Linked DNA regions of Homo sapiens. The protein of the gene in region 3 purifies or fractionates together with the protein of the main gene of each other region. This does not show direct contact. Each region holds a gene or a part of one and is shown on either strand. Other genes may lie near its edges. The genes, in order: GPR89A, COPG2, SEC62, EVI5L, ATP12A, EVI5 and CLCN2.

Evidence for each region.
Region 1: the proteins of SEC62 (region 3) and GPR89A purify together in Homo sapiens (affinity purification with mass spectrometry, with the first as the bait; one large-scale study listed by BioGRID). This does not show direct contact.
Region 2: the proteins of SEC62 (region 3) and COPG2 purify together in Homo sapiens (affinity purification with mass spectrometry; one large-scale study listed by BioGRID and IntAct). This does not show direct contact.
Region 4: the proteins of SEC62 (region 3) and EVI5L purify together in Homo sapiens (affinity purification with mass spectrometry; one large-scale study listed by BioGRID and IntAct). This does not show direct contact.
Region 5: the proteins of SEC62 (region 3) and ATP12A purify together in Homo sapiens (affinity purification with mass spectrometry; one large-scale study listed by BioGRID and IntAct). This does not show direct contact.
Region 6: the proteins of SEC62 (region 3) and EVI5 purify together in Homo sapiens (affinity purification with mass spectrometry; one large-scale study listed by BioGRID and IntAct). This does not show direct contact.
Region 7: the proteins of SEC62 (region 3) and CLCN2 purify together in Homo sapiens (affinity purification with mass spectrometry; one large-scale study listed by BioGRID and IntAct). This does not show direct contact.

What each region holds. Positions count from the first base shown.
Region 1 is NC_000001.11:145,614,250-145,618,516, reverse strand, and holds part of GPR89A (Golgi pH regulator A), read right to left. Parts: intron 2,284-4,267; coding exon 2,224-2,283; intron 198-2,223; coding exon 94-197; intron 1-93. UniProt on the Homo sapiens protein: Voltage-gated channel that enables the transfer of anions such as iodide, chloride, bromide and fluoride which may function in counter-ion conductance and participates in Golgi acidification.
Region 2 is NC_000007.14:130,549,817-130,554,083, forward strand, and holds part of COPG2 (coatomer subunit gamma-2), read right to left. Parts: intron 2,615-4,267; coding exon 2,539-2,614; intron 1,529-2,538; coding exon 1,425-1,528; intron 834-1,424; coding exon 708-833; intron 1-707. UniProt on the Homo sapiens protein: The coatomer is a cytosolic protein complex that binds to dilysine motifs and reversibly associates with Golgi non-clathrin-coated vesicles, which further mediate biosynthetic protein transport from the ER, via the Golgi up to the trans Golgi network.
Region 3 is NC_000003.12:169,976,537-169,980,803, reverse strand, and holds part of SEC62 (translocation protein SEC62), read right to left. Parts: intron 3,859-4,267; coding exon 3,753-3,858; intron 1-3,752. UniProt on the Homo sapiens protein: Mediates post-translational transport of precursor polypeptides across endoplasmic reticulum (ER). Proposed to act as a targeting receptor for small presecretory proteins containing short and apolar signal peptides.
Region 4 is NC_000019.10:7,833,000-7,837,266, forward strand, and holds part of EVI5L (EVI5-like protein), read left to right. Parts: intron 1-4,267. UniProt on the Homo sapiens protein: Functions as a GTPase-activating protein (GAP) with a broad specificity.
Region 5 is NC_000013.11:24,689,862-24,694,128, forward strand, and holds part of ATP12A (potassium-transporting ATPase alpha chain 2), read left to right. Parts: intron 1-476; coding exon 477-611; intron 612-742; coding exon 743-860; intron 861-1,102; coding exon of another isoform or gene 1,103-1,120; coding exon 1,121-1,389; intron 1,390-2,567; coding exon 2,568-2,766; intron 2,767-2,925; coding exon 2,926-3,035; intron 3,036-4,267. UniProt on the Homo sapiens protein: The catalytic subunit of a H(+)/K(+) ATPase and/or Na(+)/K(+) ATPase pump which transports K(+) ions in exchange for Na(+) and/or H(+) ions across the apical membrane of epithelial cells.
Region 6 is NC_000001.11:92,694,609-92,698,420, forward strand, and holds part of EVI5 (ecotropic viral integration site 5 protein homolog), read right to left. Parts: intron 3,378-3,812; coding exon 3,252-3,377; intron 846-3,251; coding exon 702-845; intron 1-701. UniProt on the Homo sapiens protein: Functions as a regulator of cell cycle progression by stabilizing the FBXO5 protein and promoting cyclin-A accumulation during interphase. May play a role in cytokinesis.
Region 7 is NC_000003.12:184,354,360-184,358,626, forward strand, and holds part of CLCN2 (chloride channel protein 2), read right to left. Parts: intron 3,952-4,267; coding exon 3,823-3,951; intron 3,737-3,822; coding exon 3,603-3,736; intron 3,498-3,602; coding exon 3,420-3,497; intron 3,340-3,419; coding exon 3,261-3,339; intron 3,129-3,260; coding exon 3,003-3,128; intron 2,908-3,002; coding exon 2,823-2,907; intron 2,736-2,822; coding exon 2,634-2,735; intron 1,420-2,633; coding exon 1,335-1,419; intron 1,171-1,334; coding exon 1,015-1,170; intron 615-1,014; coding exon 545-614; intron 356-544; coding exon of another isoform or gene 300-355; coding exon 189-299; intron 1-188. UniProt on the Homo sapiens protein: Voltage-gated and osmosensitive chloride channel. Forms a homodimeric channel where each subunit has its own ion conduction pathway.

The DNA.
Region 1 (4,267 bases), on a different chromosome or scaffold from region 3:
TTTTTTTTTTCAGTTATGAGATCCAATAGCTTTTCCACTGTAAAGAATGTAGCACAGAACTCTTCAAGAGGAGTTTTCAGTACTCTTACTCACCTGCTATTCAATACTCCTAAGATTTCAAAGATGATGAGCTCAAACATGGTGCAAGAAAATGCAAACGTCACGGAGAAGATCACCTGTACAACATACTGACGTATCTGTTAAAAGCCAAACAGAGACTAGAAGTTATTTCCTTGTTTAAAAACTGAACTGATAACCTCCTTCTGGTTACAAGTCAGAAAACTTATTTTGAGGAAATTCTCAAGTCATTGGAAGTAGGGCCACAACAGCAACTTGCCTGGAGCTAAAGAAAAAGATCAATATAGGTGGCACTTCTGAATCTTGAGTCACTATTACCAGCATCCTCCTGTGGATGAAGAATTTTGAGGACAAGAAGATGAAGTGACAGGGTCATAGGTAGCACTTAGAATTCCTGATGCATACTGACAAAAAACTGACAGATTCGTACATAATGGTTAATGTTTAAAGGGGTTCTTCAACACTCTGCAGATCCTGGATCAGTTCTGGAACCTTCCTCGGGAGGTCTTAAAGTATTGGGCAGAAGAAAATCTCCAGAATCCCAGGCTCTTTCAGACAATAAACTCCCTGGGAAAGTTTAATGGAGAATATCCTAGAAATGACCCAAATGTAGACTATAACCACTGATCTTATTACTAATTAGGAGAACTAACTAGGAAATGTCGAGTCTAGGGTGGTGATCTTCTGAATCCAAAGCTTAAGATAAAAACAACACCAGCCTTGTGTTGCGGGAAGTCAGGGACCCCGAATGGAGGGACTGGCTGAAGCCGCAGCAGAAGAACATAAATTGTTTCATGGACATTTATTAGTTCCCAAAATTAATACTTTTATAATTTCTTACACCTGTCTTTACTGCAATCTCTGAACATAAATTGTGAAGATTTCATGGACATTTATTAGTTCCCCAAATTAATACTTTTTAAATTTCTTATGACTGTCTTACTTTAATCTCTTAATCCCGTCATCTTTGTAAACTGAGGATGTATGTCACCTCAGTACCCTGTGATGATTGCGTTAACTGTACAAATTGTTTGAAAAACATGTGTGTTTGAACAATATGAAATTAGTGCACCCTGAAAAAGAACAGAATAACAGCAATTTTCAGGGAACACGGAAAGATAACCATAAGGTCTGACTGCTTGCGGGGTTGGGCAGAATAGAGTCATACTCTTCTTCTTGCAGAAAGCGAGTAGGAGAAATACTGCTGAATTCTTTTTCCAGCAAGGAATAACCCTGGGGAAGGAATGCATTCTGGGAGAGAGGTCTATGAATGGCCGCTCTGGGAGTGTCTGTCTTATGCGGTTGAGATAGGACTAAAATACACCCTGGTCTCCTACAGTGCCCTCAGACTTACTAGGATTGGGAAATTCCAGCCTGGTAAATTCTAGTCAGACTGGTTGTCTGCTCTTGAACCCTATTTCCTGTTAAAATGTTTATAAAGACAATGTGTGCACAGTGGGACACAGACCCTCATCAGTAATTCTAATTTTTGCCTCTGCTTTGTGATTTTACTGCCCTTTGCAGCATGTGATCTCTGTGACCCACTCCCTATTCGTACACTCCCTCCCCTTTTGAAATCCCTAATAAAAACTTGCTGGTTTTGTGGCTCGGAGTCACCATCACGGTCCTACCAATATGTGATGGCACTCCTGGAGGCCCAGCTGTAAAATTTCTCTCTTTGTACTCTTTCTCTTTATTTCTCAGACCGGCCGACACTTAAGGAAAACAGAAAGAACCTATGTTGAAATATTGGGGACTGGTTCCCCTGATAGCCTTGGGATTTTGGTATTAACTTATAATATAAGGTTTGCAATTCAGGGCCAGATAGACAAATGAAAGGGAACATTTGTGAGACATTATGAATTAAATTCTCTCCTACAGAATAACTATTTGCTATTGGTACATATCCTGATATGACTAAGACATAATCCTTGCTCCTAACTTCTGGGCTATATTTGATTTGCCTTTTTTCCCCCCTTTTAAATCAATTAAGTCTACTTATATTCTGCAATCTAATAGTTATATAGTACTTATTTGGTAAAAGCTTCCTATCTTGGAAATGAACATAATGTTTCTTTAATGGAGACATTTTTCTTGTCAATCTAAATCATATAGTGTAAGTATGACAAAATGATTTCTTCTCACCTCATAGTCTTTAAACAATTGGCGCATGAAGAAAAGCCACCCAAATCCAAAAAATAGTATCTGGAGGAGAAAGAAAATAGAATGTCAATACATATTTTCTTTTGAGAAATGTTTTATAGAAACTCTTTTATGATAAAAGGTCTGCTAACTAGACGGTTAACTTATTTCAGGGATTAAAGATAAGATCCACTCTTATAAGACCTATTATTAAAGCTCATGACATTGGAAATAAATTTTTAAATGCCCTTGGAGTTTTGAAGTTATCCATGTTACAGAGTATGCTTTAAGACAAAAATGGAAGTACATATTTTGCCATAATCTTATGATAATCATTATATGAGCCAGAGAAGTTTGCAAATAGAAAAGGAGTCAGTGGCCAGGCACGGTGCCTCACACTTGTAATCCCAGCACTTTGGGAGGACAAGGTGGGCAGATCACCTGAAGCCAGGAGTTCAAGACCAGTCTGGCCAACATGGCAAAGCTCCGTCTCTACTGAAAATACAAAAATTAGCTGGGTGTGGGCACCTGTATTCCCAGCTACTCCAAAGGCTGAGGCATGAGAATCGCTTGAATCTGGGAGGCAGAGGTTGCAGAGAGCCAATATCGTGCCACTGCATTCCAGCCTGGGTGATAGAGTGAGACTAGGTCTCGAAAAAAAAGAAAAGGTGTCAGAGTGAGACTTGCTTCTTATGGATGATCCCTGATTGCAAGTATTTAAAAATAATACCAGCCTGGCCAACATGGTGAAAACCCGTCTCTACAAAAAACACACACACATAAAAATTAGCTGGGGGTGGTGGGGTGTGCCTGTAGTCCCAGCCACCTGGGAGGCTGAGGTGGGAAGATCACCTGAGCCTAGGAAGTTGAGGCTGCAGTGAGCCATGATTGCACCACTGCGCTCCAGCCTGGGCAACAGAGTGAGACCCTGTCTCAAAAAATAAATAAAAATAAATTAATTTAAAAAATAAAAACTTCAGGGGAGAGGAGTTGAGACCAAAATTAGAGGAGTAGTAGAAAGCCTAATATTTTTTATATCTGTTTCCTTCAGAGAGTTTTCTTAGCTTCTCCACCATCCTGCCTAATCTACATAAAAGTGGTTTTCATCTCAATGTAAAGCCGAGAGATTGCAGGATCCCTCTTTCGTCAGTTTTGTTTCAAACTGGCAGAGACCGTAGCCACATGACAGCTGATAAAGCTGGTCTGTAGTAAACAGAACTTTCTATACATACACACTGACACAACTACTCTTTTCTTCTTAAACTGGCTAGGACCTTTATGAATAAAATGATTTTATGTCTTTCTAGGGACTACTTTACTGAGCAAGTGTAAACTCAGTAGTTTAGCACAGACTACTTTAGCTTCTTATCATGCCCCTGCTGCCTAGCAAACTCATGTGTTCAGCCCCCTGGAACTTCTTTGGTTCTTTAGATCCATATTCTTTCACATCGAGACCTGTGTAGATGTCCTCTGAAAGGAACTTCTCTCTAGCCCTCTCCCAGTTATGCTATTTACTCCCCCTGGAAGGCCCTCTCTGCCCTCCCAAATGCAGATAAATTGCTTTTTATATAATCCTGTTTTACATTGTACTTCCCTCATCAAAGTGCTTACCATACAGTTTTGTAATGTGTGATTTAAATATTTTTTGACATTAGATTATAAGCTCTATGAGGACAAAAACCATGTTTGTCTTGTAATCTTTGTATCCTTGGCATCCAGCACAAAGCCTGGTACGTAGCAGGCTCTCCATAAGTGCTTGCTGAATGGCTAAGTGGTCTACATAAAAGATGGTTTATTCTTCAGCATTCAATCTTAAATTTTCTGTAATAACTCCTACGTGCTATGCTAAGTGCTGAGGATACAAAGATGAATAGGATGGTTACTACCCTCTAGGAGCTCACAATATAGTGAAGACAGTACATAAATAATTATAACATAATATGGATGTGCAATGATAGAAATACATACATGATATTGTAAAACAATATGAAAGAGGGAGACCAAACCAATCTGTAAGGGGTTAGGACAGATTTTCTGGAGAAGATAA
Region 2 (4,267 bases), on a different chromosome or scaffold from region 3:
ATTAGATATTCTTTGGGAATATTTTTTATGATTGTCGCCCATAAATTCTTTTAAGACGAACCTCCAATAACAAAATCAATTAACTTAGAGATTATCAACTTCAGAAAATAAAAATAGGAGGCGACAGCACTATTACTGCTCTGAGATGCACAGTGGCAACTGACTTCAGATACTGTAATGCTTTGCATTAAAAAAAACCCTTCATTTTGGAGTGCATTTCATCTTACTGCTTTTATGTAAAAACCAGGAGTTTTTTTTAAACTCTAATAAAAATATGTCTTAAATCTAAAAGATTTAGAAGGGGTGACAATCGGCTGAGCACGGTGGCTCCCGCCTGTAATCCTAGCACTGTGGGAGGCCGAGGTGGGTGGATCACCTGAGGTCAGGAGTTCAAGACCAACCTGGCCAACATGGTGAAATCCAGTCTCTACTAAAAATAGAAAAATTAGCCAGGTGTGGTGGCGCATGCCTGTAATCCCAGCTACTCGGAAGGCTGAGGAAGGAGACTCGCTTGAACCCGGGAGGTAGAGGTTGCAGTGACTAGAGATCGCGCCACTGTGCTCCAGCCTGTGCGACGGGAGTGAGACTCTATCTCAAAAAAAAAAAAAAAAAAAAAGAGTGACAATTAAATGAGTATTAGAGAAAATATGCTAATATTTTTTAGTTTTGCAAAACTACTTATACACAGAAAAATGAATAGAGTGAACCTGCTTTCTGTTCAAAGACAGGAGCCATAGCAAGAGGAATTGATTTCATGTCAAACGGTTTTTCTGAAGGCTCCAACGTGTACTGGTGTAAGGCTTTTTCCATCCCTGGTACAGAGACCGTCAAACCTGTGAAACATAGAGAAATCTCAGCATTATAACCTCTTGCCAATCCTCGAATCCAAATAGGCCCAGGTTTGTAATATTTATCTAAGCTTTCTGAAGGAAGAGAAAAATATAACCAAAAGCTTTATAACCTAAATATAAAAATAAAGGATATTCTTGAAATTACCTTATAAACTTATAAACTGACTTATTTCATTCAAGGAAACATGGGAGCATAGCATACACATTTTCAACAAAATGTATGTACCTCCCAGAAAAGAAAGCAACTTAGCTATATGGGAACAATGATAGCATAAGAAAACGGGAAAAATGTAAACCCATCCAAGAGGGAGTTCAAGGAGAACCAGGAATAAGTGAGCAACGTTCCTAAAAAATGTAAGGGCCCAATCTATATTCTTATAGATTGCTGCATAGGAATTATCATTACCAAATTAGAAAATATCCTATAAACACAGGTTTCTCTAGAAATGGAAGTGCACTCAAAGACAAAAACCAAGCATTTGCCTAGTGAAGTTAGCTCATATGCAAATCATAAAATATGCTTCCAAGACACCATTTGAGGAACAAAAGTGTACATCCTTGGCTTTCACTGACCATTAAAGATATATGTGGCATTTAGTGCCATCTGCCTCTGCTGCAGCACATTCAGATAGAAGGTAGCTCTGTCTCGTACCTCGTCATCAGTATCCATCATACACCTGTCCAGGGGAAACAGAATAGTCATGTCACAGTACCCCAAAGACTTCCAATAGCTCTACTACCAAATCTAAAGGACACAGCTCAGGTCGTCATCTGATACTACCTTTAAAAAAGTGCTCAACAATAGCCAACAGTGGCTCCTAAAGTCTTCACAAATCTTGGGTACTGCTCTGAATTACTAAAGAAATACTGCTACTGTGAATCACAAGCACTACATAAGTAGGCATTAAAATAACGAGGAGCACAAGAACATGAAATAGCAGTCTGGAGTCTTTTCTTCCATCTGTAACTACATGACCCTGTTGAAGACTTAGACTTCTCTGTAATTAGGAAATGGGAGTATTATACTCTCCAAGGATACTGAAAAGATAAATTCAAAATCCAGCCACTGTTTTTGCTCAAATGACAATTTGTTTTACGTAAACTAGCCAACCTTTGGCTTGTAATTTATCTGCTTCAATTATAAGATGCAATCACAGTTTGCTAAAGCAAGTCTTTTCCTCATCAAATAGAGTCATGAAGACAATGAAAAACTATTATTTTTAACTCTGCATAGTGAATTACCTAACAGTTTTTTTAAGTAAGCCCCTGTTGTACAAATTGAGGCAAATGTATTTAAGTCACTTTCTCAAAATCATGTGAGAGAAAGCCAAAATCAAATGTGACATGTACCTAGCAAATAAAACCCTATGGAGAACTAATATTTTAGGGAATGGGGCTGGGAAGAGAAGCTCTATAAATAAGAGTGAGGAGTGATGGAAACATGTAGGCTATTGTGTAAACCAAGGCTAGGGGCTTTCATGAAGTGATCAGTCAATAGCACATCAAATTGATTGGGAGGTATACATAATTACTAAAAAGAGAAAGGAATTGCCATTTGCCCCTGACTTGCTCCAATAACTCTACTCTTAGGGCTTAGAGTGCATCCGCCCTATGGTAGAATGAGGATTTCACTGTTTAACCATATAGAATTCTTATTTTTTTTTAGAAAAGACATTATTTAACTTACCTCTGTAAGAGTACAAGGATGCTTGGGAGAAGACTCTCATTCTGAGCCCCAAATTTAGCCAAAGCACTCACAGCAGCTATAATGAAGCATACAATTATGGTACATAAATATTGGTTTCTCAGAGTTAACCAATAACCATTTGAAAAAAAATTAGAAAAGTGTCCCCATGTTCAGTGGAGATAAACTCCCTTGTTTTATTGAGTGTTTCTTGATCTTATTTCTTTGATACTGTTAAGCATAAATAGAATTCTGCAAGCCCAAGAGAGCTCTGAATAGGAAAATCTTCCAAAAATTGAGGAAAAAGATTCATATAGATTTTCTGTAGGAGCTATATCTCCACCCCACCACAACCCCTTATATATCACACTGATGTCATTAAGCTCTAATCTCAAACAACCAGCCCCAAGCATAAAAAGAAATTCTATTATTAAAATTCCTCTCATTCAACAAAGATTCATTGTTCACCAAACTTTTGTCAGGAATTGTGCTAGGTACTGGGACAGATAAAAGACATGTCCCTGATCTCAAGGAGCTACACTCTAGTGGGAAAGATAGGTATGTAGAGAGACAATTACAAGACATCATAGGTAAGTCCATGGAAGAAATATATCCAGGATGCTATGTGAATACACAGAAAGGAACTAAATCCGAATTGGTGGTGGAAAACTAAGACAAAGAGTTAATACATATTACTTGAGCTAAAATCTGAAGACCAAGTACTGTTAGCCAGAGGAAAAAGGCAGGATAAGAGTATTAGAGGCAGAGAAAATAACACGTTCGAATGGCCCCTGCCCAGAGAAGAAAGTGTGGTGTATTACTGGACAGTTGGGCAAGGCTGAGCAAAGGACCCATGTTGGAGAGCAAGAAGAGACAAGGGAGAGACTGGCAATAAAACAAAATTAGGGTATGGTTTAATCTCAACATTATTATTAAAGGATATTAAATATGAGATAAATTTGTACATTTGAAAGTCCCCCCCGCCTTTTCTTTTTTTTTTAGCAGAGTGTAAAGAATAGGCAGGATATATGTGAGTCTAGAAGCAGTCAGATAGCTAGGGATCTGAAACGGATGACAGCCTCAATCAGCACCAAGAAAATAGAAGAGAATGAAGAAATATTAAGGAGACACAATTGAAAGCGCTTTGCTAAAGAACAGATAGGGGCTGTAAGGCAGCAGAACAAGATTCTATCTTGATAACTGAGTGGATGATGAATGTGAGGTTAGTTTGAATTTCAGGTTGAGTTTGAAGTGCTTTAAGTTATTTGGACAAACAAGTTCAGGAAAGAGACATGACTGGAATGTCACAGCCTATTAGCAGAGCTCTGAAAATGATCACCAAGAGGAATGTAGATGTTGAGAAGTCAAAATCTTACAGAGAACTAATATTTTAAGGAATGGTGCTGGAAAGAGGAGCTCTGTAAATAAGAGTGAGGAGTGATGGAAACATGTAGGCTATTGTGGAAACCAAGGCTATGGGGTTTCACGAAGTGTTCAGTCAATAGCACATCAAGTGGACTGAGTGTAAACAAAGGTAAGAACATTAAAGTATCTAACTTGATTTTACAACTAGTTTATAAGTAATTTTCAATAAAATTACTTGAGGATTTTTAAGGGAGAGCTACATTATTCTGAGTTAAAGAGAAAAATGGATAATGAATTCATGCAGGCAGCTAATAACGGCTACTTCAAGTTTATCTCCGAGGGGAAGGAAAGTATAGAGTCAGTAGCT
Region 3 (4,267 bases):
TACAGATACTTGAAGTATATATTCTCAAATGGTAATGTGGCTGGCTATCTACGAAGCAACATTATTAGTAATTTGGATTTTCTTCTAAATCATTTGCAACAGTTCCCATTTTCTTAAATTTACTTTAGTGGAAAAAATGATTCTTAATAAAGAATTTTAAAAACAAACAATGCAACTTTAGTAGAAAAAAGCCTTTTCCCTGATGAGTAGATACTGAAGGCAATAGAACCAGCAGGATCATCTGCTTCTGTCAATTTTCCTGCACAGCTGCCCACCCCCACGAAAGAAAAGTAGATTATTAACTTTCAATCAAATTGTGTTGAAAATAATTTCACAATTAGGTTGAAAGATGAGACTGACATTATTTAACATTTGTATAGTATCAGAGCCTCCGTTTGTTTGGCTTTAAACCCATGACATAGAACACATTACTAACATAAAACTCTCTGACATTTTTACACAACTACTCATACTTTCCTATCTCGGTGTGTTCTATGCCCTTTGCTTGGAATGAATTTCCTTTCTTCTCTTGTTTGTTGGGTAATCACCTATTTATGTTTCAAAATTTACTTAAAACATTTTCTGTGTGATGTCATTCTTCATAGTTTCACCATCTCTCTCTTCCTTATTCAACACACTGCATTGTGATTAGTTATAAATCTTCCCTAACAGATCAGAATATGTTTTGATGTAGGGACCAAGTCATAGTTATTATTGTATTCCTGGAGCCTAGACTATTTGTTGAGTAAGTGGTTTTAAAACAGCTTCTAAAACATTTAAAAAATTACTTCTGTATTTTTTTCCTTCACTTCCATTTTTTTTTCAGATTTAACAAACATTTATTAAATGCCAGACATGTTGGGGACTTCCACCAATGTGGCAAAGGTGAGTTTTTATGAAGTGCTCACACTGTGGTAATTGCTATGGAGTTACAATAAAGTATAAAACAGTCTTACAATTGTTTTCAGATTTAGCTGGCAGGAGATTTTAAAAAAACTCACACATATGTAGCAATTCTAAAATAGTTAAGGGCCAAACTGGGAGGTACTAACTTGATAAACTCAGTAGAACTTTAGATACAAAGGCTGATGAAGGCTGGAGGGCCTGGGGAAGAGTACATTCGGTAGAGGAAGGACTTGAGGGATTTGTTTGTGATTTTGAGAGGCAGGTGGGACAGAGGAAACAGAACCGTTTAGGGAAAGTGGCAAGTTATGATAGGAAAAAGACTAGAAGAAAAAATGAGTGTGGCATGTGCACAAGACTGAGGACGACATAACTGGATTGGGGGTCAGTGATACAAAGTCTTGTGGAGACTTAACCTAGTATGTATGAGTTCATTCATGATATAGGCCATAAAAAGGTATAGATCACATTAGAAAAGATTGTTTTATCATCCTACATTTTCCTATTTTGTTTTTCCTCAGACTCCCTCATGCCACTTAGCTGCCTCAGAAAAACTGACAGTATTGGAGGATGCCAAAAAAAGAAAAAAAGAAACTGGTCAAGAGACCCTTTGTGATTTTGTCTGCTATTGGGCAGCAACTCATGAGAACTGGCCAATAAGACTCTACGGTTATATTAGAAGTGGCTCTGGAGACCTTAAAGTTATGCTATTCTCATTTATTTTAGTGCAGAAAGGACTCAAACAATCTGACATCAGTGGGAAGAGCGTATACAATGAAAATCGAGTGTCTTTGGACACTCTCTGTACTCAGGTCTTTTGAGCTTTTCAAATAACAAGGTACCAAGGCTCCTAAAAAGCCAAAAAATGTGGATTCATACTGGCTGCTCTACTCAGAGATTTGGGCTTACAGATCTAATAGCTCCATTAAATGCATCGTCATTTTGTTGGAGGAGACAGTATAGAGCGGTAGTTAAGAACACAGACTGTGGAGACAGGCTGCTAGATGTAGAACCCTAGATCTGCCACTTGCTAGCTGTGTAGCCTTAGATAAAGTACTTAAGTTCTCTGTGCCCCAGTTTCTGCATTTGTAGCATCTCTTAATTTTTACACAACATGTAAAAAATACATCAGTTTTGTGGCAGGTAAGGAAGTTTGTACTTTTTGGTTTGTTTTTAAGACAGAGTCTTGCTCTGTCACCCAGGTTGGAGTGCAGTGGTGCGATCTCGGCTCACTGCAACCTCCACCTCCCGGGCTGAAGCTATTTTCATGTCTCAGTCACCCAAGTTGCTGGGACTACAGGTGCATGCCACCACGCCTGGCTAATTTTTGTATTTTTAGTAGAGATGGGGTTTCGCTATGTTGGCCAGGCTGGTCTTGAACTCCTGGCCTCATGTGATCTCCCTGCCTTGGTCTCCCAAAGTGTCAGGATTACAGGCGTGAACCACTGTGCCCAGCCTGGAAGTTTGTACCGTGGAGCTAATTCTATTCACCTTTTTATTTTTTCCCCACGAGCAGATTCAAGTTGCCCTGGATATATGCTTGCTGGAGCTAATTCTAACTAGACAAGTTGCTACAAAAGACAAGCAAATATCAACTGCATGAGTGTTAGCTCATCCTTGTCTCAACAATGTCTCACTCTGTCGCCCAGGCTGGAGTGCAGTGGCGCAACCTCGGCTCACTGCAAGCTCCGCCTCCCGGGTTCACGCCATTCTCCTGCCTCAGCCTCCCGAGTAGCTGGGACTATAGGTGCCCGCCACCACACCTGGCTAATTTTTTGTATTTTTAGTAGAGATGGGGTTTCACCTTGTTAGCCAGAATGGTCTCGATCTCCTGACCTTGTGATCCACCTGCCTCGGCCTCCCAAAGTGCTGGGATTACGGGCATGAGCCACTGTGCCTGGCCGAAACCTACTGTTTCTAAAAGGTCTGTTAGTAACCTCTAGTCTTTGGCAACTAAGAATTTTAAGAAATATTCAATAATTCTTTAACTTGACAGCTTAAGAAACCAGGTTGTGAAATAGTGGTTTTTAAGAGGGTTCTTATGTGGCTGATACTTTAGGTGCCATTAAATAAAATATTAGTACACATAAAATAATCTAAAATCCCAAAAGATAAGCTTTAGTGTTATGAAAACAAAATTTAGTTAACATATATTAAGAAAATGCTTAGTATTAAGTAAACCAAGAAAAAAAAGAAAAGAAATGGAAAGAAAAACCAGCATACTTCCTTCCAAAAGGAAGGTGATTTTGTCTTTTAGGTAAACCACTTAACATCAAAAGTTTTTTCAAAACAGAAAAAGTATCTATTATGAAAAATATATGTATATTACTGAATTAGCTGTATTTCATCTTGAAATTCTCAGAAAAAGATAAGGTAGATGTTGCAGCTTCCTTGATTTTAGAAGAAATACTACATTAGCAAACACTGAACCAAATAGGAAAGGGTATGAGGCTTATGGCTCAGGGTGCAGGCACTAAAAAAGTAGCGGTAACACAGCTAATAGGAATTCCTGCAAAAGTTTTGAAAAAAAGACTCCTCAACCAATTTGCTCTACAAAAGAAAAAACTTTCTTTTCTACTGTAGGCACTGGTATATGACTTTTGTTGCTGACCCTTCAGTAGGGCTCACAAATATATAAAATAGAACATAAATAAAAATTATATACAGTTAAAAGTATAATAGTCTAATACCAAACACATTTCCAGAGGTACCAAAGAAATCAGGTTACATGTGAAAACAGTATTTGAGTTATGTTGTAGTATCACTACATTTAATGATGTAAGGAGCTTCAGGACTATGAAGAAAATTTAAAATTATTATGTTATTCTTCACTAAGAAATAAACAGTACCTGTTGCAGTAGTCAACCACAGACTCCCTGGTTGTAAATAAAGCTTCCTCTCCTTTCTTGGCCTTTGCCCACTTTGAATCCAAAAGACAGTCCACTGCTTTTGAAGCTAAAGAAGAAATTCATTATTTTAAATTTAGCATACATGGGGATTTATGTCTATCTAAATAATATTTTATAAAGTAAAATTTCAACACTCTGGCAACAAAAAAGAAAACCAAACTCAACAGAAAACTAAATCTAACATGATCATGATTAGTAGTTCCCCAAAACCTCAACTTGTGAACTATATTAAGTATCTTTTAAAAGTAATGTTGGGAAATAATGGCATTCAGAAAGACCAACTAAAGCAAGTTAAATTAATGGGGAAATATTCAAAAATTTAAAATATCTGTATGTAACTATCACTCTTATTAATCACAAGCATATGTAGATAAACCAAAATGTTCACCACTCCCTGCAAGTAATAAAAATTCTCATCAAGTTTTACTCTAATACACTGAGGAAGAAGCTCTGTC
Region 4 (4,267 bases), on a different chromosome or scaffold from region 3:
AGCCTCCCCAGGGTGGAATTTTGTGCAGAGACAGTGGGGTATGAAGGCTTCCCAGGATGACTGTGAACTCTATAGGAAACCACGAGGAGGACTTGTCAGTGATACGAACGCAGTTTTACCCGAGACTGGGCTCGTGGAGCTGCATCTTTGTTTGAGCTTTGAGGGGGCAGACGGATGAGGAGGAATGTATATTTCAATTTCCTCTTGCAGAATAGAGATGCCAGTTGTTACAGGGAAGCCCTGGGCCTGGAGTCAGATGTTGGGGTGTGAAGGAATGTAAGATGTGTACAATGTGGTCCCTGCTCTGCGTCTAAAGTCCTCTCACTGGCATGCGGCGGCCCCCGCCATGTGCTCAGCACCATGCCAAGCACCATTGACATATTATCTCATTTAATCCTCCCCAAAACTCGGAGGAACCAGGATTGCAGCACGCGCCCTTGCCATCCTGGCCTGAGGCCTGCTGCGGGGAGCATGAGACAGAATTATGTACAGCAGGCTGCAATGGGAGCCCGGAAAAAAAGCCTGATGCATCCCTGGGGTGTTGGGGAAGGCACAGCAGGGATGACGTATGGACCAGGTCACAGGCAGGCGTGGCAGGGAAGGGTGTTCCAGGCAGCAGAAGTGCTTGGACACACGCCCAAGAGGCAGGAGCAAGCGTGGTGCGCTCAGGGAGGCGTGTCCCTGTACTTCCTTTGATAGGCGTCTTACTACAAGCCCTTGTGTCCCCAGTGCCATCTGTACACTTGGCACACATGGTGGGGGGCTCCCCAGCAAAGGGGATCCCTAGTTGGGAGAACTTGGAAAGGCAGCAAAGCCGCCCTTCCCAGGGAAGACTGCAGCACACACATGCTAGCAGCCCGGGCAATAGAAGGAAGGAGGTGAGTTTAGGAGAACTAACTCAGCTCATCAGGGTCAGGGAGAACTAACTCAATTCATCAGGGTTAGGGAAGAGACTTACCCTTTTGAGGGAGATTTGGAAGGCCTCATTGGCATGACTCACCTGCACTTTCATTCATTTCTCAGCATGCCACGATATGCTTGTGAGAGTGTTTGATTGAAATCTGAGGCCCGGCACGGTGGCTCACGCCTGTAATCCCGGCACTTTGGGAGGCCGAGGCGGGTGGATCACCTGAGGTCAGGAGTTCGAGACCAGCCTGGCCAACATGGTGAAACCCCGTCTCTATTAAAAATACAAAAAAATTAGCAGGGTATGGTGGTGCACACCTGTAGCCCCAGCTCACTTGAACCTGGGAGGCAGAGCTTGCAGTGAGCCAAGAACGCGCCACTGCATGCCAGCCTGGGCAACAGAGCGAGACTCCATCTCAAAGAAATAAATACAAATTTTAAAAATTTTTAAAAAAAGAAAAATGAGGGTTTTGCCAGAAGGGAACCTATTATAATAGCCAAAAGTAATCTGGTCAGATGACAAGAAAGAAAATTTTTTTTTAGGTCAGAAAGGATTCTGCAGGTCAGAATGGTTCACTTCTCAGATTTTAGCCAAAGGTGTGTGCTGCTGTTGCTGCTATTGTTATCAATAAAGATTATTCTAGTTTTACTGTGTTTACTCTTTAAACAGGATCACCACAGAAAGGGAGGGCCTGTTGAAGAGGGGAAGTTTATTTATCCCACAAATATGGGATGCCTACTAGACTCTGAAGATCCAATAGTGGGCTAGACAGCCCCAGCCCCTGCCCTAGTAGAACTTTTCATCCAGAAGGGAATAAATATCACAGGTCAGGCTTGTCCTAAGCACATGACAGGTTTAAGCTCATTGATTCCTTCCAACAAAAACTGTGGGGTAGATACTGTCATTAGCCCTGTTTTCAGATAATGAAACTGAGGCAGGCCAGGTGCAGTGGCTCACGCCTATAATCCCAGCACTTTGAGAGGCCGAGTCAGGGAGATAACTTGAGGCCAGGAGTTTGAGACCAACCTGGGCAACATAGTGAGACTCTCTCTCTGCAATAATAATAATAATAATAACAAAATTAGCTGGACATAGTGGCAAGTGTCTGTAGTCCCAGCTACTTGGGAGGCTGAGGCAGGAGAATCACTTGAGCTCAGGAGTTGGAGCCTGCAGTTGGCTATGATTGTACCACTATACTGCAGCCTGGGTGACAAAACAAGACCCTGTCTCTAAAAATAAAATAAAAATAAAAATAAACAAAAAAAATTGAGGCAAAATACATCATACCCAAGGTTACAAAGATAGAAAGTGGTAGAGGAGGCCAGGAGCGGTGGCTCACACCTGTAATCCCAGTACTTTGGGAGGCTGAGGCGGGTGCATCACCTGAGGTCAGGAGTTCGAGACCAGCTTGGTTAACACAGTGAAACCCCGTCTCTACTAAAAATACAAAAATTAGCGAGGTATAATGGCGGGCATCTGTAATCCCAGCTACTCAGGAGGCTGAGGCAGGAGAATTGCTTGAACCCAGGAGGCAAAGGCTGCAGTGAGCCAAGATCGTGCCACTGCACTCCAGCCTGGGTGACAGAGGTAGACTCGGTTTCAAAGAAAAAAGAATAAAAAGAAAAGAAAGAGGTAGAGGAAGGATTTGAACCCAGGCTGCAAGCTCTGAAGTTCTCACCTGGAGCCAAGAGATCTGGGATAACAACCTACATTCCAAGGCCAGGGATATGGAAACTTCCAGAACCATGTGGAGGAGCAGCTAGACTGGGCGCAAGAAGAGATCAGGCAGGGACCTCTGAATTCAAGCCGCTGTTCTTGTTATCCAAGGGGCAGCTCACCTGTCAGTTGTCCGCCCACACCTTGCCAAGGACGAGAGGACCTAAGGTGCTAGGTTGGGCCATTTCCCCAGAGGTCAGAGCCAGCCAAGACAGCAGCAGTCTGTCAGGCTAGACAAATCGGGGTCACATGGCATCTTGGGCTTTAGATTCCGAAATGAGTCTGTGTCCCTGGTAATCATTAGACATGGAGGAATCAGAAATGGGGGGTAGGGCCGGGCGTGGTGGCTCACACCTGTGATCTCGGTACTTTGGGAGGCCGAGGCGGGAGGATCACCTGAGGTTAGGAGTTCAAGACCAACCTGGCCAACATGGCGATACCCTGTCTCTACTAAAAATACAAAAATTAGCCAGATATGGTGGCACGCACCTGTAATCCCAGCTACTCGGGAGGCTGAGGGAGGAGAAGTGCTTGAACCCAGGAGGCGGAGGTTGCAGTGAGCCAAGATCGTGCAACTGCACTCCAGCCTGGGCTACAGAGCAAGACTCTGTCTCAGAAAAGAAAAAAAGAAGGAAATGGGGGGTAGGGGAGTAAGGGAAACAACATGGAAAGGAAACTCGGGGTCTTCATTGCTGTCTCTGAAAATGCCACAGACTGAAAGATGCATCATATGTGCTCGCCCTCTCTCACCGTTGAAAAATAATGACTGTTTTCACTGAGTAACCCCTGCACTTGGGGTTTCACATACGTGTATCATTCCCAAAGTAAAAGAATACAGACAGAGCTGCAGCACAGCGGGTGGATTTAGGGCAAAGGCTATACAGTCAGAAATCCAAGTTCAAATCCTTCTTCCTCCTCAGCCTAGTCAAGGGACTCTCTGTGCCATATGGCACTTGTGTGTTAAAGCCGTCGTTGGCTTTTCTGCTTACACTGTACAGAAATTTCTATTTTTATTTTTTTCATTTTTTTTTTTAGACGGAGTCTCTCACTCTGTCATCCAGGCTGGAGTGCAGTGGCGTAATTTCAGCTCACCGCAACCTCTGCCTCCTGGGTTCAGCCTCAGGAGTAGCTGGGATTATAGCCATGCGCCACTACACCTAGCTAATTTTGTATGTGTGTGTGTATTTTTAATAGAGACAGGGTTTCACCATGTTGGCCAGGCTGGTCTCGAACTCCTGACCTCAAGTGATCTGCCCCCCCTCAGCCTCCCACAGTGCTGGGATTACAGACATGAGCCACCGCACCCAGCCTTTATTATTATTTTTAAAATAGACTTGGGCTGAGGCAGGAGGATCCCCTGTGGCCAGGAGTTCAAGACCAGCCTGGGCAGCAGAGTGAGACCCCTGTCTCAAAAATAAAATAAAATGGCCAGTTGTGGTGGCTCACGCCTGTAATCCCAGCACTTTGGGAGGCTGAGGCGGGCGGATCACCTGAGGTCAGGAGTTCAAAACCAGCCTGGCCAACATGGTGAAACCCCATCTCTACTAAAAATACAGAAATTAGCCGGGCGTGGTGGTGCGCACCTGTAATCCCAGCTACTTGGGAGGCTGAGGCAGGAGAATCACTTGAACCTGGGAGGTGGAG
Region 5 (4,267 bases), on a different chromosome or scaffold from region 3:
TCCTGCCAAGCTTGAAGCAGGAGATCACCTCGTTAAAATTTCCCTGACACTCGCAAGATTATCAGCCTCCCCAGCCCCACCTTCAGTGTTCTGCCCAGACGCCCAGCCAGGATTGCTCACCCTTAGTGGTCTCCTTTTCTAGGAGGCCCAGGGCTCTGGCTTGGCCAGATCTGGCCAACAGCGACTCTTCTGTTCCAAGAACTCTCCATAAGCTCAAGAAAAAGTAGTTCTTAGAGTCTTCAGGCCTCGGGTGAAGCAGTCTTCTGTTTCATTCTTGCTGTTCTGACAGCCTCATGCTCCAGCAGCAATGCTGTGTCCACAGGGCCAGGTGCAGGCTGCATAACAGCATGGACTCAACAGTGAGAGTGATCAGGAAGTTCCAAGGCCTCTGTCCTGGGGTTCGGTGCGGCACAGACTTGGGGGAGGGCCGGTGTCCTTCCAGGGTCTGAGGCATCTGTCATGGTTTTTTTCTGCAGCAAGCTCTCGTCATCCGAGATTCCGAGAAGAAGACCATCCCTTCAGAGCAGCTGGTGGTGGGGGACATTGTGGAGGTCAAAGGAGGAGACCAGATCCCTGCAGACATCAGGGTGCTGTCTTCTCAGGGGTGTCGGGTAAGCGGCAAGGGGTATCCACCCCAAGGACCATGTTCCAAACCTGCTGGCTCTGGGGTCTTTCCCAGCATCAGTATAAGAGGCAGGGAATGAGGTACCCAGCTGTGAACCACCTTCAACATTTCTTCTAGGTGGATAACTCATCTCTCACGGGGGAGTCTGAGCCCCAGCCCCGCTCCTCTGAGTTTACCCATGAAAACCCCCTGGAAACAAAGAACATCTGCTTCTATTCCACAACGTGTCTGGAAGGTAAAAGGCCTCTGGCTCTCAGCCCACATGTCCACCTGTGTCCTTTCTCCCTCCTGGGCTCTCAGGTCTGTCCTTTGCCACACCCCGTTACAAAGCTCATCCCAGAGGAAGCATGGAACTGAAGGGCCTAGAGGACGATGCTTGGCCTTGGGAATGTGGTGTGCCTATCGATTGTGCCAGCCCCCAGAGAGGGCTGCAAGCTGGCTGCACACCCCTCCTGGCTGAGGACCCCTGGAATAAAGCATCTACTTCCCCTGTAGGCACTGTCACCGGCATGGTTATCAACACGGGTGACCGCACCATCATTGGCCATATTGCCTCATTGGCCTCAGGAGTTGGAAATGAGAAGACGCCCATTGCCATTGAGATCGAGCACTTTGTTCACATTGTGGCAGGAGTGGCTGTCTCCATCGGCATCCTTTTCTTCATCATCGCTGTGTCCCTGAAGTATCAAGTCCTGGACTCCATCATCTTCCTCATTGGCATCATTGTGGCCAATGTGCCCGAGGGCCTCCTGGCCACTGTCACTGTGAGTCCATGCTGTTAGACAGCCTGCACCTGGCCCTGTGGACACAGCACTGGTGCTGGGGAGGCGCCCACACAAACTGCAATCTCCCCCAAGTCCAGAGCACCACGCCCTCCCCGCCAGCGACAACCCTGGAACATTCTGCATAGACTGTTCCTTACAGAGACAAAAAATTTGTCATATTTTCAATATTTGACTGCGTTTTCCTTGAAAACGTTATGCTTTCAATCTGCAATTCACACAGCTTACTCTGCCCCATAAGATCTAGATAAGACAGACTCCACCATTCACAGGTTTTCTAGAAGCTTGATGCCTTCCGCACATTTCTTTGGCAGTTTCTACAACTTAGGCATTTAGGCACATTGCCACACTCCACTTACCTCTCTTACGAAAAAAAAAAATTCCTCCCATTTTTCCTGCCGAGGACTCCAGCCCTTTCCTGGCCAACCCCAGACCCAGCTGTTTGTATGGGCCCATGTCATTCAGTCCCTAGAGAAGAGCCCCCTCCTCCTCAGTCTCTCCTGTGGGGGTCTCAAGGGGTAGGAGAGGAGGGGGTTTATGTTTCCAGTTTTGTGACTACATGATCATTGGCCTGCTATTGTCCTGACCAAAGAAAAGAGAAGAAGTTTTTGAAGTCCAGGTCTCCTCTGACTCCAGGAGATAGTAATTTGGGGAAATTGGAGCCAAAAGAACCCTTTGAGATCTAGGGGTTTAAAAGAATCTTTAAAATATGGAGCTTTTAAAATGAAACAACATAAAGGCTGCTGAATTCCCCAAAGCAACAAGTGTGTCCTTTGGGACAACTCTTTGGCATGCACTGGTCAGTCTCTCTTACACACTCCTGCTTAGGGATCACAGGAGGCGTCGTGATTGTACGTGAACACGAGCCACAGCAGCGTGTCCGTGTTTGCTGCCCGTGGGTCCCTTGTTTTCTTCAAGTCATGAAGGAACAAGAAAAGCATCTCATATTTAATCTTTAAAAAAGGATTGTGGCATAGAGGGCTCTTGGCGGCGTATAAGCCACCAGGTCAGCTTAGCTGCGCTGACAACCACACCTCTCCCCTAAAACTAGTCCAGCTCTCTCCTAAAATTCAATCACAGCTCACATTGGCTATTTCTGTATTATTGGACCTGAGTTCAAATGAGGATTTTTCCCAAAGCGTCCTTCCCTCTCCTGCTAGGTGACCCTGTCGCTGACAGCAAAACGGATGGCCAAGAAGAACTGCCTGGTGAAGAACCTGGAGGCTGTGGAGACCCTCGGCTCCACCTCCATCATCTGCTCGGACAAGACTGGGACACTGACCCAGAACAGGATGACAGTGGCCCATCTGTGGTTCGACAATCAGATCTTTGTGGCTGACACCAGTGAGGACCATTCAAGTAAGTCTTATGGAGAGCTCGGTCTGGCCAAAGCTGTGGACTCCATCCTGGGGCTGAGCTGAGCACACAGCAGGGTCTGCAGCCAGAGGATTGCTGGACAGTGACTCATGGACGGCCAGCCCAACCCACAGCAGCCACTGTTCTTTCTCTGTCTTCCAGACCAAGTCTTTGACCAAAGCTCTAGGACTTGGGCCTCCTTATCCAAGATAATAACATTGTGTAACCGAGCAGAGTTCAAGCCAGGACAGGAAAATGTCCCCATCATGAAGGTAATGCTTCTGCAGCACTTGGTCTTAAATCACAGCCAGTTTGTAGTCACTTGCTGAGGTCTGATTGGGTGCTTGATTTCATCTCTCCAGTTGCTTAAAGTTTGTTCAGTGCTTGCAAGAGCAAGTCAGACTCACAAGACATCCAGAAATTTTTCTTTATGCACACTAGCTTTGAGAATACAAAGATGCTTAAAAGGTTTCAGAATATTGCTTTAGCGTCTTCAGAAAATTCTGGAAATGAATGCACTTCTAAGTTACTTTCCTGACTTTTCTGCCAGCTAAGTGGATATAATCAAAGTTCCTTTTAATATACACACCATTCATGGAAATTTAAAGTGTGATTGAATAAAAATAAAAGGACTCCTGTTAACTAGAATATGGCTGCAGACAAAGCTCTAAGGGGTCCTGGAATATCGGAACATACAATAAACTCTCCCCCTCCCTCCCTCTCCTCCTTCCCTTCCTCCCTTTTCCTCTCCATCTCAATGAGTCACTGAATCCCTGTTCTCCTGGCTTTTCTATTTGCCATCTGTTTCCTTCCCTGACTCTTTTTCTTTCTTATTTTTTTGTTTGTTTGTTTGCTTTTCTCTCCGTCAGACAGCTCATGAATGCTCTTTTTGGCCAATTGCTTCTTTGTCGATATCTTCCAAATCTTTATGTCCAGCTCTAATTTCTTACCTCAACTCCAACCCGAATCTCTGGCTGGCTGTGTGCTTCCGCTAGGAAGTTGCACAAATCATGCTTGTTAACTTCCACCCGTACCCAGCCTGGCTGCACATCAGTGCCTTGCCGCAATTTTCTAATTGTCTATGATATAACCATTCTATTTGTCATTGGAACAGAATATTTGGAAGTCATCTTTGACTTTATCCTTTCCTTATATCCAGTAAGCCACCAAGTTCTATCATTCTTGCTTCAAAATATACATAACTTTAGTATTTGTCAGCAGTACCTTGCATCTAAATAGCCGATTACCGGCTGATTGGAATTAAACCTCTTTGATTCCGGTTTATCCCTCCTGGGGTCTTTCTCGAATGCCACTAATTTCCCTTAATGGTGCTTTTATAGTCACTTAACTTTGCTCAAAATCTCTCCGTACTTCCCTGTTTTCTGCTTCTCAAGTCTAGACCTCAGGCTACCTTTCAGGGCCCTCCAGGTCTTGCCACACCCTCCACATCCGCTTGTACCTTGAACACTCACGGACGAGCCTGCCCCTCATGCCCCTGCACCCG
Region 6 (3,812 bases), on a different chromosome or scaffold from region 3:
GACATATAAATAAATGGGCAGGGTTGTGTTCTAGGAAAACTTTATAAAAAACAGGTGTGGAAGAATGGATTTCGCACAAAAATCTGTCCATCTGATTGGTACATGAATCACAGCTGACCAACTGTGATCTGAACTAATTTAGATAGGTAATACAAATTGATTTTCCCAAGATGTAATTAATAACAACATTGAGTTCACAGACTAGAAAACAAAGGATTACCTCTATGTGCTACTGACAAAAGGACAACAACCTGCAATGTGTTCATAGAAGAAACATGCTTATTACTTCTTACTCTTTGGATGACAGATGCATTTCAACAATATTAACTGTAAGACAAATTTTACCTCTCACTAACTTTCACTGTATGAGTTAGGAGGTGATAAAGAGGTATGATTAACAGTGTAGGCTCCAAACTGCCTATGTTTGAATCCTGGTTACAACACCACTTATGTATTGTGTGTCCATAGACAAGCTACTTAACCTTTCTCTAAGTCTCAACTTCCTCATCTATCATCTAACAAATGCAATAAAAACAGTATCTACCTGATAGGGTTATTATAAGGTTTAAATGAGATTATCCATGTAAGCAGTTTTGCATGGGACACATGGCTTTCCTTCATTGCTCTCCTCATTGCCCTGCTCTCACTAACTCAGTGACCCCTTTGCTCAGCTCCTGCTCTTTGTCTGCCCATTAGCTTACCTCAGACATAAAGATATCAAATATCCTTGTTGCAATTGGTAGTGGAAAAGTTGTAAGAAAGATAGTCAGAAACCAGGATGATGCATACATTGAGGTATGAAAACTCTGAGATTGAAAATGTACAAAGAGCTCTGGAAGATGCTCCTAAAGAGAAGAAAATAATTAGTTATAACACAGTAAAACTGAGTATTTTAAATTAGATTATATTTATACTAGATTAGCCTATACCAAACACAGATTAGATCAAGCATCATATGGAAAAGGTAAGACATAGACATTGAAACATCTGGGACAGTGGCTAGTATCTAGGAAAGAAAGAAGGGGGAAAGAATGTGAAGTTGGAATTTTGAGTATAACATTTAATTTATTAATAAAAAGAAACTGAATAAAAGTTTTATATTTGTTTAATCCTGTTGGTGGATACAAGAGTGACTGACATTTTCTATACTCTTCTATCAACTATAATATTTTAAAAAGACGTTTAAAAAGAAAATAAATGGTATGTTAAAATACTTTCAGGCACTATCTACCACTGATCACCCATTCTTACCTTCCTAAAGAATAGGAAAAATATTCAAAATACAGATGTTTCAGCAACTCTAGTAATTCAAAACATAAATGAGACTTTTTTTTTTTTTTGAGATGGGGTCTCACTCTGTCACCCAGGCTAGGGTACAGTGGTGTGATCTTGGCTCACTGCAACCTCTGCCTCCCAAGCTCAAGCAATCCTCCCATCTCAGCCTCCCAGGCAGCTGGTACTACAGGTGCACACCACCATGCCCAGCCAATTTTTTTTATTTTTAGTAGAGGCAAGGTTTTGCCATGTTGCCCAGGCTGGTCTCAAACTCCTGGGCTCAAGTGACCTGTCCACCTCAGCCTCCTAAAGTGCTGGGATTACAAACATGGGCCACTGCGTCCAGCCATAAATGACACATTAATTGAAAATATAACATTAAGAGAGTTTAAGGCTGCTAAAAACAAGCTTACTATTTCAGAAAAGAATTAATTAAGAATCATCTCAAGTCCAGGCACAGTGGCTCATGCCTGTAATCCCAGCACTTTGGGAGGCTGAGATAGGAAGATCACTTGAGCTCAGGAGTTCAACACCAACCTGGACAACAGAGTGAAACCCTGTCTCTACAAAAATTAAAAAATAAAAAATCAAAATAGATAAAAAACTATTCAGGTGCAGTGGTATACACCTGTAGTTTCAGCTATCCAGGAGGCTGAGGGAGGAGGATGGCTTGAACCCAGGAGGTCAAGGCGGCAGTGAACTGTGATTGTGTCATTGTACTTCAGCCTGGACAACAGAGCTAGATAGACTCTGTCTCAGGAAAAAAAAAAAAATCATCTCAAAACCTATTCTGGCTTTTTCTTTAAAATATATAAAAACAAAAAATATGTACCCCATAATGTACAACTATTGTATGTCAATTAAAAAATTAGCCAGGCACAGCGGTGGCTCACGCCTGTGATCCCAGCACTTTGGAAGGCCAAGGCGGGCGGTTCATGAGGTCAGGAGATCGAGACCATCCTGGCTAACATGGTGAAACCCCATCTCTACTAAAAAAATACAAAAAATTAGCTGGGCGTGGTGGCAGGCACCTGTAGTCCCAGCTACTTGGGAGACTGAGGCAGGAGAATGGCATGAACCCAGGAGGCGGAGCTTGCAGTGAGCCGACACCACGCCACTGCACTCCAGCCTGGGCCACAGAGCGAGACTCCATCTCAAAAATAAATAAATGAATAAATAAAAAATAAAATATAAGAACATTTTACATATCCCCTTGCTCCCACCACAGATGGGAAAAACTGGAGTTTATAAGGCTGCCAGGAGAGAGGAAACTAATAAAAATGGCTCTCATGCCAGCTGATTCATTCACCTATTTTCTTAAATTCTGCTCATTTAATTGAAATTGAAATTGAAATAAATGAAAATATTTACATTATAGCAAACTTAAATATATAAAATATAAAAATTAAATCCAGAAAGGTAAAATACTTCAAAGGTATTTTTCCCTTGATTTTGATTCTGCTCCTATTCTCTCCACCTTCATACAGTCACTAGATAACTTGAGTCTTAAACTAGCAACATAAGAAAACATTACAGGAAAAAAAATTACGGGCTAGCAAAAAATAAAAATAAAATAAAAGTAAAAAGGCAGAGGAGAGGACTCAAAGAGACAGTCTCCAAGTAAATGGACTGATGTCAGTGTAATATCATAAAGCTCCTGTAAGAGAGCTTAGACTACGTAACAATAATAGGATATAATAAGGAAATTCATGTGCTTAGGTAAGGGGTGTATAGTACATTTGGCAGAAATGCTTAAGGATTGAATATGAAAACTGGAGTCAAGTCCTAGACTGTGATCTACCTAATTTGAAGGGTCAAATTGTACATTAACCAACCAAAAAACAATCATGTAATTAAAACACTTACTTCTTCAAGTGCTTTAATGCTTTTAACATTAAATTTGCTTAGTTGGCACTCAGAACAAGATATAAAAAATATAAAGGCAATATGCCTTTTTATCAACACTGCACTTTTACCTGTATCATACATTCAAACTGGTACATACAAAGGCCCAATTCTGCCATACTTGGTTTAAAAAGTTCACGAAGTCTATAATCTTGCATTAATTTAACAAATACACAGAAAGCTTCTTCTTCTGGCATCTACATTGGAAGAAAAAAAAACAACATAGGTTAATGTTCTCTGATACACAAATAAACCAATGATATTTAAACTAAGTACACAGCCAACCACAAACATTGTTTGAGTGGCTGTGTGCTGCAATGTTAAGAGCAATGAGGTAAGAATCAGAAAGTTCTAGTCTCCCATTCTATCACCAAGAATGAGAAGTTAAACAAATCTTACAACCTCTGAAACCAACTGCCTCAACTTGCCTCATTCATTAATTCAACCCAAAATACTGATTTACAGCCAGATACTTTTCTCTCTCTGGGTATACACCAGTGAACAAAATAAACACAATCTCTATTCTCAAGGAACCTGAATTTCTAATGGAGGGAGACAGACAAGACATGGAATAAATCAACTAATATATATGTCAGATGGTGATGGATGCTACAGAAATAAAATAAAGTAGG
Region 7 (4,267 bases), about 14 Mb from region 3:
AAGACCCTCCACAACCAGGGCAGGTCCTGAGTGGGTCCCTCAGGGCTGCCCAATACAGTCCTGGGATTGGACCTGTGCATCTGAGGGAAGCCTGGTTTCTGCCAGCAGGGGGCACCAGAGTCTCGGACCCTGTGGCTGGGGCGTGGGTGGGGGGGTCTCCCAAGGCCGATGGGACCTGAGGCACTCACCGACCACAGCGTAGCCCCCAGGCACAATCCGGTAGGTGCTGCTGTCCGTATGAATTCCATCTGGGAACCAGGCAGCCATGCTTTCACCCACCAGACGCCCAAATGCTGCTCCTTCAGGGAGGGGGGTGGGAAGAGAAAGAGGCAGTGGAGGGGGAGGGCAGGGGGCACTAGGAAGAGAGAGGGTCAGAGGGTGAGGGAGGGGCCAACGGGTCATTCAGTGTAGGGCACAGCCCTGTGGGGTCAGGGTTCGGGCTAGGGCTGGACCAAAAACCCGCTCTTGGGCAGAGGGTTGGCTGGGGGGGTGGCCAGAGGCTGAGGAAGGTGCAGGCTGGGTGAGCAGGCAGCTGAGAACTCACCAATGACAAAGACAGGCATGAAGGCCCCACAGGGAACTGGGATGGTGGTGGCCAGTGCAGACATCCAGAACTGCAGGCAGGGGGTGGTTCAAAGGCGAAGAGGCTCCACCTGGCCCCAGGCAGCCCACAGCGCCACCCAGGAGAAGTCTACCTCGCTGATCAGGTGGGCGTAACCCTCCCAGCCACCCCGTAACCCTCCTAGCTACCCTGGGACCCCCAGGCCTCCCAGGTGATGGCAAGGGGAAGGACTCTGGAAGCAGATGGCTTGGGTTCAGATCATCGCTCTGCCCTCTAGCTGTGTGACTTTGGGCCAGCTACTTGTGTTTCGACTCCCCCATCTTTCAAACGGGGGTGATAATAGTGCCTTTCCCATGGCACTGTGGAGAGGCTTCGAGGAGTGAGCACTGCGTGGCAGGTGCTTAGAAGGGCAAGCTATGTAAAGGTTAGCAGTGTACACGTGAGGAGCCCACCTTCATGAGAATGAAGATGACCAGGGTGAGGAAGACGTTGGCACGTGGTGGGTTCCAGGCCTGTGAGGTGCTGGGTGGTTCTAGCTCCTCCACCAGGCCCTGGCGGACCCACGTCCGATTGTCAAACAGGGTGACCAGCGTCTCTTTCTGTGAGAGCTAGAGTGAACAGGGTGCCTCAGGCTGGGAAACCGACAGGATGAAGGGAAGAGGCCATGGGATCCCACGGGGAACAAGGGGTCCCACAGTCACACTGGGGCTGTTGGCTTTGGAGGAATGCCTTCCAAGGGAAAGCACAAAACTCCTGTTCTGCCTGTGGTTACCTGTCCAGCCATGAACTGTCCAAAGCCAGGGGGGAAGGTCAGCGTGGAGATGAGCAGGGTCACCAGAGCCGGGAAGAGCAGGCGTCTAGAGTCGTAGGTTTCACATCAGTCGTGGGTGGCCAAGGGCTGGGTGGCCTCGCATATCTCAGGGCTGAGGTCAGAGCAGAGCCTTGGCTCTTTCATGAAAACACTCAGTCCTGACAGAAGGTCTCCTTTGCTGTTTATGATACGATAGCCCCAAGGCTGATGGTGGACTGGGGTTATTCTAAGAGCAGGGGTCTGACCCAAAGACCTTTCTGTCAGCCCCTGACTCTGTAGGTGGGTAGCAGCAGCAGAAAGTCCATCCTCCAAGCCCTCCCTTGGGGCCCTCCGAGTTGTTATTCCACCCTCCACCCTCAGAAGCCCATCAGGGCATATTGTGTGATGGGGTGGAGAAGTTTCTGCCTCTCTTTGTCTCTCTGCAGTGACTTAGAGTGAAGGTCAATGTTGGGGGAAGCTGGGGTCACTTGTAAAGTTGACCAGAGGTGCGTAGGGAGCAGGTTCAGCTGGCTGCCCTCTCTCTGAAGGATGTCAGTCCCAAGGGAAGTCATGTCTCGCCCTCCCCACTCCCAATCCTCAGGGTCACACTGAGAGAGCTGTGTTCTGGAGATTAAAAAAAAAAAAATCTCGGCCGGGCACAGTGGCTCACGCCTGTAATCCCAGCACTTTGGGAGGCCAAGGTGGGCAGACCTGAGGTCGGGAGTTCGAGACCAGCCTGACCAACGTGGCGAAACTGTCTCTACTAAAAAATACAAAATTAGCCGGGCGTGGTGGTGCATGCCTGTAATCCCAGCTACTTGGGAGGCTGAGGCAGGAGAATCGCTTGAACCCAGGAGGCGGAGGTTGCGGTGAGCCGAGATCGCACCATTGCACTCCAGCCTGGACAACAAGAGTGAAACTCCGTCTCAAAAAAAAAAAAAAAAAAGAGATCTCATCTATCCCCATGGGTCATGGGGGGAACCTGAGGCTCAAACACTCTCCAGGGAGCATTCCTATATGGGCCAGCCCAGAGGACCTGAGGAGGCCTTAGTCTTTGATTCCCAAATGTCCTCTACCGCTGACTATAAACTTAAAAATGCCAATTTTCAGGTAATTCATATGAATATAAAAATGCTCAGTCAGCCTGGAAAACACTGCTGGCTGATTTCTCAGTGAAGTGCCTGTTTTGACTGGGCCATTCTCTCCCCATCACTGTCCCCTGACCTACTGTGGCCCTTATACAACTCAAAGCAGCCTGGAGAGGAGCCGAGAGCCACTCACTTCCTCATGAGGAAGCGATTGATGGTTTTCTGCTTCCGCATCACCTGGACAATCTTCCGGTTCAGGTAGACAAAGAGGGCTCCACCGAAGCCACTAGCAATACTGGAAAGGGAAGAGGCACCTGAGTGAAAAGGAGCCTTCTAGAAACCCCCCTCCTCTCTGATACCCCCAGCCCCCTCAGCTCCTCACCCAATGACAGCAAAGGCTGGCAGCTCCTGCAGGTCAAAGGGGAAGTCGAGCCGGAATCGGGTTTTGAAGAGGGCTGTAATAGTCTCTAAAGGGAAGAACAGCAGAGGGAGGCAGGCCTAGCCTCGTGGGCCCCCTACCTGGCACCATCTCGGGCTGCCCTCATCCCCTGGGTGCCCCCACCTTCATCCCGGTTCCAGACTGCCAAGACCCGGAAGATGAAGGCACTGAAGGTGGCAGCGAAGAAGCCCCGCCAGTAGTTCCGCACTGCAAAGAAGGTGGAGGTGACCTCGATGCTGAAGAGGACGCCTGTGAGGGGGAGGGAGACCAGCACTTGAGGCCTGGGCCTGGCCTAAGGCCTCAGACCCAGATAAGAGGGGCCAAGGAGGAGAGGCCAAGGGCAGGGTTGTGGGGCTGGACTGACCTAGGAGCCCTGCCTACCTCCAATAGGTGCCGCGAAGCAGCAGCCCACCCCCACGGCACAGGCGGCAGCCAGCATCTCTGTGTTCCGGGATTCATTCTGGCGAGAGTGGTGGCAAGAGGGGGTCAGCTGTGGGCTCAGCAGCCTCTGCCCCCTACTTGCCCCAGGGTTCCCCTTACCTCATAGATACCCCCAAAGAGGGAGAGGAACTTGCTGAGAAGGGCAGCACACATGCTTGCGATATGCACAAAAGGGCCCTGCGGGGTGGGGCAGGCGGTGAGTCGGGAGGGGGCCCGCCCTGACCTTGGCCTGGCCTCCTCTTCCACCAGGAGGGACTCCTTCATTCCCCAGCCTGCAGTTACCTCTTTGCCAAGCGGCATCCCGCTGCCTAGGGCGCAGGTCAGCCCAATGACCTTAGCTATAAAGGTCTTGAGTGTGAGGTATTCTTTCAGCACCACTCCCCGCAAGATGGTCTTCATCTCAGGGATGCCAGAGCCTGGAGAGGGAACAGTCTCAGGAGAGGCATTCGATGCACCCATTTCAGGGGTCCCGCCTCTGCCCTCCCCTTCTCTTCTAACATACCGACAGCCTGAGGGGCCAGGATCTGTGTGAATCCGGCTGAGAAAGTGATGAGGACAACAGGGTAGGTGACCCAGGCCAGGTACTGGAGCAAGATGCTGGTGTTCAAGCCCCGGGACATCCACTGCTGGGCTGTGGGAAGAGGACCTGCTGGACCCCCAGTGCACACACCCACTGCCTGCCTGGCCAGTGGACCACGCTGATACGACAGGCTGTCCCAGGGAGTACCACACAGAGTCAGGGCATGGGTGAAGGAAAGGGTCCCTGAGGGTATTCACTGGGACAAAGCGCAATCTAGGCAAGAGGATCACTTGGAGAGGGGATGCAAGAAGCTGTGCCCTGTGGGAGTGGCCGAGATGATGCCTGAATCTGGGCAGTCAGACTGGCTGGGGAAAGTGGTCAGTGGCCAAGAAGCCAAGACGCCTTCCTCCATGTCTAGACGAGTGTG